Homo sapiens: one gene and its partner. The protein of the gene in region 1 purifies or fractionates together with the protein of each later gene. This does not show direct contact. Each region holds a gene or a part of one and is shown on either strand. Other genes may lie near its edges. The genes, in order: CGB1 and ZNRF2.

Region 1 (3,491 bases):
TGCTGAGAGACCTCAGGGTTGGCCCAGCTGCTCTACGGACGGACCCCAGTTGGGGAACTCATCAAATCATCGCAAAATCTCAACTGTCTGAATTTGAGCTCAATCTCTGTAGGATGGGTGCAACAATGTGGGGTTTTGAAGGTTGAATAGGAACTCTCCCGGGGGAACTTGAGGGTAATCATGATGATGATGATAATAATAATAGCCATTATTTACTGAGTGTTTACTCTTTCGTAGCCCTAATACATAACTCCTCGGATCAACTCTCATGGATTTGATCATTGGTGACCTTTGGTGTTAAGTTGCTGACTGCTCAGTCACAGAGGACACCACCTTGCTCATCCTGGGGAGTGGGAGGGCACATTTCACGATGTGCATGGGGGAGGAGAGAAACTGGAACATGCAAGCAGATGGCCAGGGGACCTTGAGGACATGGTCTACAGAAGGCCTTTAAGTATCTGGGAGCTGGGGTTCAAATGAGAAATCTTACTTGGTGAGAGCAGGCAGGGGTTGGCTTAGAATATTCTGTTTTGAGATAAAGAGCTACCGATCACACGGGGAGTATAAGCAAGGTTCAATGAGAAGTGATCAGGATGCTGGAGAGTTCAGCCCTGGGCGGGGAGCTCAAGTCAGGTTTCTAGCCCTCTTCCCTGTGCCATCCTATACCCTACATTGGGAAAGAAACAGACCTTAAAATTGTCCAGCTTGATGGCATCGCGGGGAAGGGACTAAGTCCAGATAATGTCCTCCGAGGCTGCGGCCTCGGGGGCAGGACACACCTCCTGCGGGCCTATTCAATAATCAGTTAAATCACCCGAAGCACACGCATTTCCGGGGACCGCTCCGGGCATCCTGGCTTGAGGGTAGAGTGGGCAGAGGTCCCTAAGGGAGAGGTGGGGCTCGGGCTGAATCCCTCGTTGGCGGCACCAGGGTCAAGTGGCTAACCTGGCAGCACAGTCACGGGGAGGCCCTCTCTCATTGGGCAGAAACTAAGTCCGAAGCCGCGCCCCTCCTGGGCGAGGAGGTTCCACCTCCTAGGTTCCTGTGATTCTCCTGCCTCAGCCCGAGTAGTGGGACATCCCACTTGCTCCCGCCATTCTGTTTACCACAGGTGACGACCGCCATGGCTGACAGGCAGGGAGGTCCCCCGAGGACCGAGCAAGGCTCGGTATCCCAAAAAAAAAAAAAAAGATACATTGAAGTAATTTAAAAACACTTAGGAAGATGTCATTTCTTCCTATCAAGGCGTCCTCCCTTTATGTTTTGTTGTTATATAGGGAACGATAAAAAAATTTTTTTTTTTTTTCCTACCAATGGGGCCCAGGTTGACCTCGAACTCCAGTCCCTCACACCCTCGCCTAGCCTTGAGAGCCCGAGGGCAGGCTCAATCGGCCGGAGCCACAATGGCTCCGGTTGTCGGGCCCATCCTTTCTTCCCTTTGATCTTACGCAGGGTGATGGAGCCAATCACAAGAGGCTCATCCCTGACGTCACCCAGTCCCCAGGGCCAGTGAGGGCCCTGCGTTCCGTGGCGCCCCCTGGAGGGAGGAAGGGGAACTGCATCTGAGAGAGAGCAGCCAATTGGGTCCGCTGACTCTGGCCAGGTTCCCGTGCCGCGTCCAACACCCCTCACTCCCTGTCTCACTCCCCCACGGAGACTCAATTTACTTTCCATGTCCACATTCCCAGTGCTTGCGGAAGATATCCCGCTAAGAGAGAGACATGTCAAAGGTAGGGTAGATCCACATTTCCGGGCACCAAAGATGGAGATGTTCCAGGAAAGACTGCAGGGCCCCTGGGCACCTTCCACCTCCTTCCAGGCCATCACTGGCATGAGAAGGGGCAGACCCGTGTGAGCTGTGGAAGGAGGCCTCTTTCTGGAGGAGCGTGACCCCCAGTAAGCTTCAGGTGGGTCAGTTCCTGAGGGTGCGGATCTGAAATGTTGGGGTATCTCAGGTCCTCTGGGCTGTGGGGTGGGCTCTGAAAGGCAGGTGTCCGGGTGGTGGGTCCTGAATAGAAGATGCCGGGAAGGGTCTCTGGGTCTTTGTGGGTGGTGTACCATGCGGGATGGGAAGGCCAGGACTGGGGGCTGCAGTCTCAGACCCGGGTGAAGCAGTGTCCTTGCCCCAGAGGCTGCTGCTGTTGCTGCTGCTGAGCATGGGCGGGACATGGGCATCCAAGGAGCCGCTTCGGCCACGGTGCCGCCCCATCAATGCCACCCTGGCTGTGGAGAAGGAGGGCTGCCCCGTGTGCATCACCGTCAACACCACCATCTGTGCCGGCTACTGCCCCACCATGGTGAGCTGCCCGGGGCCAGGGCAGGTGCTGCCACCTCAGGGCCAGACCCACAGAGGCAGCGGGGGAGGAAGGGTGGTCTGCCTCTCTGGTCAGGGGCTGCGGAATGGGGTGTGGGAGGGCAGGAACAGAGGGCTTCCTGGACCCCTGAGTCTGAGACCTGTGGGGGCAGCTGGGGAGCTCAGCTGAGGCGCTGGCCCCAGGCACATGCTCATTCCCCCACTCACACGGCTTCCAGACCCGCGTGCTGCAGGGGGTCCTGCCGGCCCTGCCTCAGGTGGTGTGCAACTACCGCGATGTGCGCTTCGAGTCCATCCGGCTCCCTGGCTGCCCGCGCGGCGTGAACCCCGTGGTCTCCTACGCCGTGGCTCTCAGCTGTCAATGTGCACTCTGCCGCCGCAGCACCACTGACTGCGGGGGTCCCAAGGACCACCCCTTGACCTGTGATGACCCCCGCTTCCAGGACTCCTCTTCCTCAAAGGCCCCTCCCCCCAGCCTTCCAAGTCCATCCCGTCTCCCGGGGCCCTAGGACACCCCGATCCTCCCACAATAAAGGCTTCTCAATCCGCACTCTGGAGGTGTCTTTCTGTGGGCTCAGGGCAATCACACACACAGGGTGGGTCCAGCTTCCAAACTATTTTATACAGAGTCACAGTACAGAACTCTGGTAGAAAACAGGGTGGACGGCTGGGCGTGGTGGCTCACGCCTGTAATTGTCGGAGGCTGCGGTGGGTGGATCAGCTGAGGTGAGGGGTTCCAGACCAACATGACCAACATGGAGAAACCCCATCTCTACTAAAATTACAAAATATCGTCGGGCGTGGTGGTGCATGCCTATACTCCCAGGTACTTGGGAGGCTTAGGCAGGAGAATCTCTTGATCCTAGGAGGCGGAGGTTGCAGTGAGCCAAGATCCCGCCATTGCACTTCAGCCTGGGCAACAAAAACAAAGCTCCATCTCAAAAATTAGTAATAATAATAATAATAATAATAATAATAATATAATTAAAAACGTTCGTCCAGGCGCAGTGGCTCATGCCTGCAATCCCAGCACTTTGGGAGGCCGAGGCAGGTGCATCACCTGAGTTCAGGACTTCGAGACCAGCCTGGCCAACATGGTGAAACCCTGTCTCTACTAAAAAAAAAAAAAAAAATTAGCTGGGTGTGGTGGTGCGCGCCTGTAGTTCCAGCTACTCAG
Region 2 (3,820 bases), on another chromosome or scaffold:
ACCTGAGTAACAAAATATCTGTAGAACAAACCCCCATGACACAAGTTTACCTATATAACAAACCTGCACATGTACCCCTCAACTTAAAAGTTAAAAAAATTGTTAAATATCACAATACACAAGAAGACTGTATTCTAGATATATTACACAAAAAGTAAACATACAGAATACTAAGACTGTGTGTAAATATATTATTATATGGTCAAATATATTTGTGATTTTCAAATTGAAAGCCAGAAGCTTTAAGATTTATGGATATTTAAAGGCACTCATATTAAACATAAACAATTATAGAATATAAGATAGTGGAGCAGGTATGAAAAACAAACCCATATACTTTTAGTCACAAATTTTGAATGAGAACACTTTCTATTTCTTAAATAACTAAACTTGAAGTAGATAATGCAAAGTAGCCAATTCAATTTCATAATGCAAAAAGGTTAGGATATAATCAACAAATACATTTATTATGCCAAGTAACTGCTTAAAACCACTTTCACATTTCATCAGCAAATGAATGGCAAAAAGTGCTCTATTGTCAACCCTGTAATAGGGTGGCTGAAGCACCACCATACTAGAAAAAGTGAAGGAAAGGGAAGAATTGAGAGACTGATTCTTAGATCAACTTGCAAAACACTACCAAAAGTAATATGCTCATTTCAATGTTAAATTCTACCCCTCCCAACATTTTTGTTACCTGAGGAGAAAGCTCAGATAAGTGCTGCTATATCTACTAAGTTTTTCATAGAACCTTTTTATTTAACCAATAATTCTTAGCTCAAAGAAATCAGTGACTATTACTATTAGTAGGCTGTAAGCTCCATTTCTGTTCATTCACTGCTATATCTCTAATTCCTAACACAGTACCTCGCACATAATTGATGCTCAAAATATATGTTGAATTTAGCCAATCTTTCAATTGGCTATAGTGTTTACTGGTACCCTTTCTACACATTTTATTTCAGGCCAAAATTTATATTTAAAAAAAATGAAATTTCTCTTAAGCTTTTGAAGTCTGTTTCTTTATAAAATTTTGAAAACAACTTTCATTTTTCCTTCATTTTATTCTATTCATTGGTTAGGACAGAACTACTTGATTTTTCCCCCCCAAGTCTATTCCAAAGTATGCCAAGGCTACATTTAAAATCTTTCCTAGGTTTTGGAATATCTAGAGATTTTGGTCAGGAAAGAATGGTACAGTCTAAAACACCAGACCTAAAAAAATACCAGTTCGCTCCAGAGCTCACAGACTAAATTTGTATATGGGAGGAAAGACAGAGACACATATGCACTGCATAGGTAGAGTTTTGGGTTTCTCTTAATGACTTTTTTCTCCCATTAGGCATCTATTTACTATTGAATAAACTTTTATTCTCCCTACTCCTCATATATGTTCCCTTCATTTACTCTATACTCTTAAACAAAAAGAAAAAAGTTGCAATTTCAACCATGCTTACTTACTTTTGAAAATGGCCATTATGAACATTACATTTTACTTAGGCTTAACCCAAAAGATTTTATTTCAATGCAGCAGTTCTCAAACTGTGGTCCAAAGAATCTTGTACAGTAGGAGAAGTGGAAGAGCCTTTGAAATCCTTTTAGATTAACAAAGTAAAAACTATTTTCATGGTAACACTAAGTATCTGTTTTTTTGTTTGTTTGTTTTTGTTTTTTTTTCTTTTTTTTTTTGAGACAGAGTCTCACTCTGTCTCCAAGGCTGGAGTGCAGTGGCACAATCTCGGCTCACTACAACTTTCGCCTCCTGGGTTCAAGCGATTCTCCTGCCTCAGCCTCCCGAGTAGCTAGGATTTCAGGTGTGCACCACCACACCCAGCTAATTTTTTTTTTTCTTTTTTTTTTTCTTTTAGTAGAGATGGGGTTTCACCATGTTGGCCAGGCTGGTCTCAAACTTGGGATCTCAGGTGATCTGCCTACCTCGGCCTCCCAAAGTGCTGGGATTACAGGTGTGAGCCACTGTGCCTGGCCATATCTGCCTTTTTCATTCCCATTCTCTCCAGTATAGCAGCAGAGTTTTCCAGAGGACACAAGACGTGCCATATCACAATAAACTGAATGAAGAAGCAGATGTGAGAATTCCTTGTCATGAAGCCTGATATTAAAGAGTTTGTAAAAATCCTGAAAATGCCACTCTTGTCACTAAATATTTTGTCTTAGAAAATTTACTTTTCATTTAAAAGTTGTCAACATAATTATATTTATGTTTAACAAAATAAATTAAAAATTATAAATTCTGTTTTAATTTATGACAAATATGGATAGATATAACCCAAGTAAAGAAAAACTCTTTGAAGTCCTCAGTAATTTTTTGAAGTGTAAAGAAGTCTTGAGATCACAGAATTTGAGAACCACTGCATTAATGCACTAGTAAAAATAGAGAAAACAATGTCCTTCCCTCCTTTTAAATTATACTTGAAACATGAAATTCATAAAATGTAAGTTAATTCTAACTTAAAATATTATTTTAAACCATTGGACTTACCATTATAGGTTATTCGTGGCTTTGTTAAACACATTACAAGATGCAAATCCATTTCATCTGAGGATACAAATTTTGAGCATACAGGGCACTTAAATCCTAAAAAACAAAAGAAACTCAAGTTACTTAACTATTCTGAATATCCAGCTATGGCTTTTAAAAAGCATGGAAAATCAAAAAGCGTTTGAAACTTCAATATTACACTTACTGCATTACACTGTTTATGTGCAACTCAAGTCAGGAAAATTTTGTGATTATAATATCTGACTTTTGTATCAGTTTATGAAGATGATCTCCTCATCAAACAAAACAAGTTAAAATGAGAGGGATGCAGTCCACTACAAACTCCTGTATCTCTCTCTGATGTACTGGTCCAGGTATTCTCGTTTTTAATTTTTTACATTAACCTGTACTCATGATTTCATGTTATTACAAGCTTTGTAATCTGACTACTCTTGTGGAAATTACCTTTACCAACTTGGTATAGTACACTGTGAGTCACAAGTTTTATAGCTAAACAGCACCTTAGACACTATTCTACCTCAATAACCTTAAAATTTTATCTGATGCAGAACGTGAAGCCTTTCAGAACAGCAAAAACAGGTCTAGAATCTAAGACTCCTGACTTCTACTTTAATGGTCTTTCTGCCACACCATGGCACTGAAGTCATAATGAAAACAGAAACTAGCATCAGATCGGGGTACAGGTTTTTGCAGTCAATTTTTGACACTTAAAAATTAGCTAGTTTCCTACATTATTCAATCTGCACTACTAAGTATTTGCCTGAAGTACTCCATTAAAAATAAACTAGCATAATAAAATAGGGACTATTTGATGTATTCAGCTCTGTTCTGCCCCCTCACTTACCAAGGTGAAGTGTCCCATCCCTGCCTTCTTGCTGCTAAGACAGTCCTCAGATATACCATGTTCCCCTGCTGTCCTACTGCTCCCTCCCCTGACACCACTAAGCTGTTTGGAAACCTGAACCCAGATAGCCAACTTATAGTTTGGCTAGGCACAAATCAGAAGTGGAACAAAAAGATGGCATAGGCCAATCAATTTTTTTTTTTTTTGGAAATATGATTAAGAAACAGTGAGAGACTATATTGGCCAGCAGTAAAGAGCTTAAGCAGAAAGGTCAAAAGTAAGTAAAAGAGAGACAGTGGTGTCCATGACGGCTCAGGTGTAAGCTGAACTTACGAGAGAACAGAAACTATAGGCAAGCACAAGAAAGAAGGCCACATGAAGCTAGAGTGTAGACAGGAACAGAAGCACTGTGAGAGACAACTAATAAGATGGGTGGTGAAAGAGACGTTTTGGCA

The links.
Region 2: the proteins of CGB1 (region 1) and ZNRF2 purify together in Homo sapiens (affinity purification with mass spectrometry; one large-scale study listed by BioGRID and IntAct). This does not show direct contact.

Annotation. Positions count from the first base shown.
Region 1 is NC_000019.10:49,034,942-49,038,432, reverse strand, and holds CGB1 (choriogonadotropin subunit beta variant 1 isoform 1 precursor), read left to right. Parts: upstream 1-1,537; 5' UTR 1,538-1,721; coding exon 1,722-1,730; exon of another isoform or gene 1,731-1,907; intron 1,908-2,129; coding exon 2,130-2,297; intron 2,298-2,532; coding exon 2,533-2,823; 3' UTR 2,824-2,864; downstream 2,865-3,491.
Region 2 is NC_000007.14:30,322,418-30,326,237, reverse strand, and holds part of ZNRF2 (E3 ubiquitin-protein ligase ZNRF2), read right to left. Parts: intron 2,597-3,820; coding exon 2,501-2,596; intron 1-2,500. UniProt on the Homo sapiens protein: E3 ubiquitin-protein ligase that plays a role in the establishment and maintenance of neuronal transmission and plasticity. Ubiquitinates the Na(+)/K(+) ATPase alpha-1 subunit/ATP1A1 and thereby influences its endocytosis and/or degradation.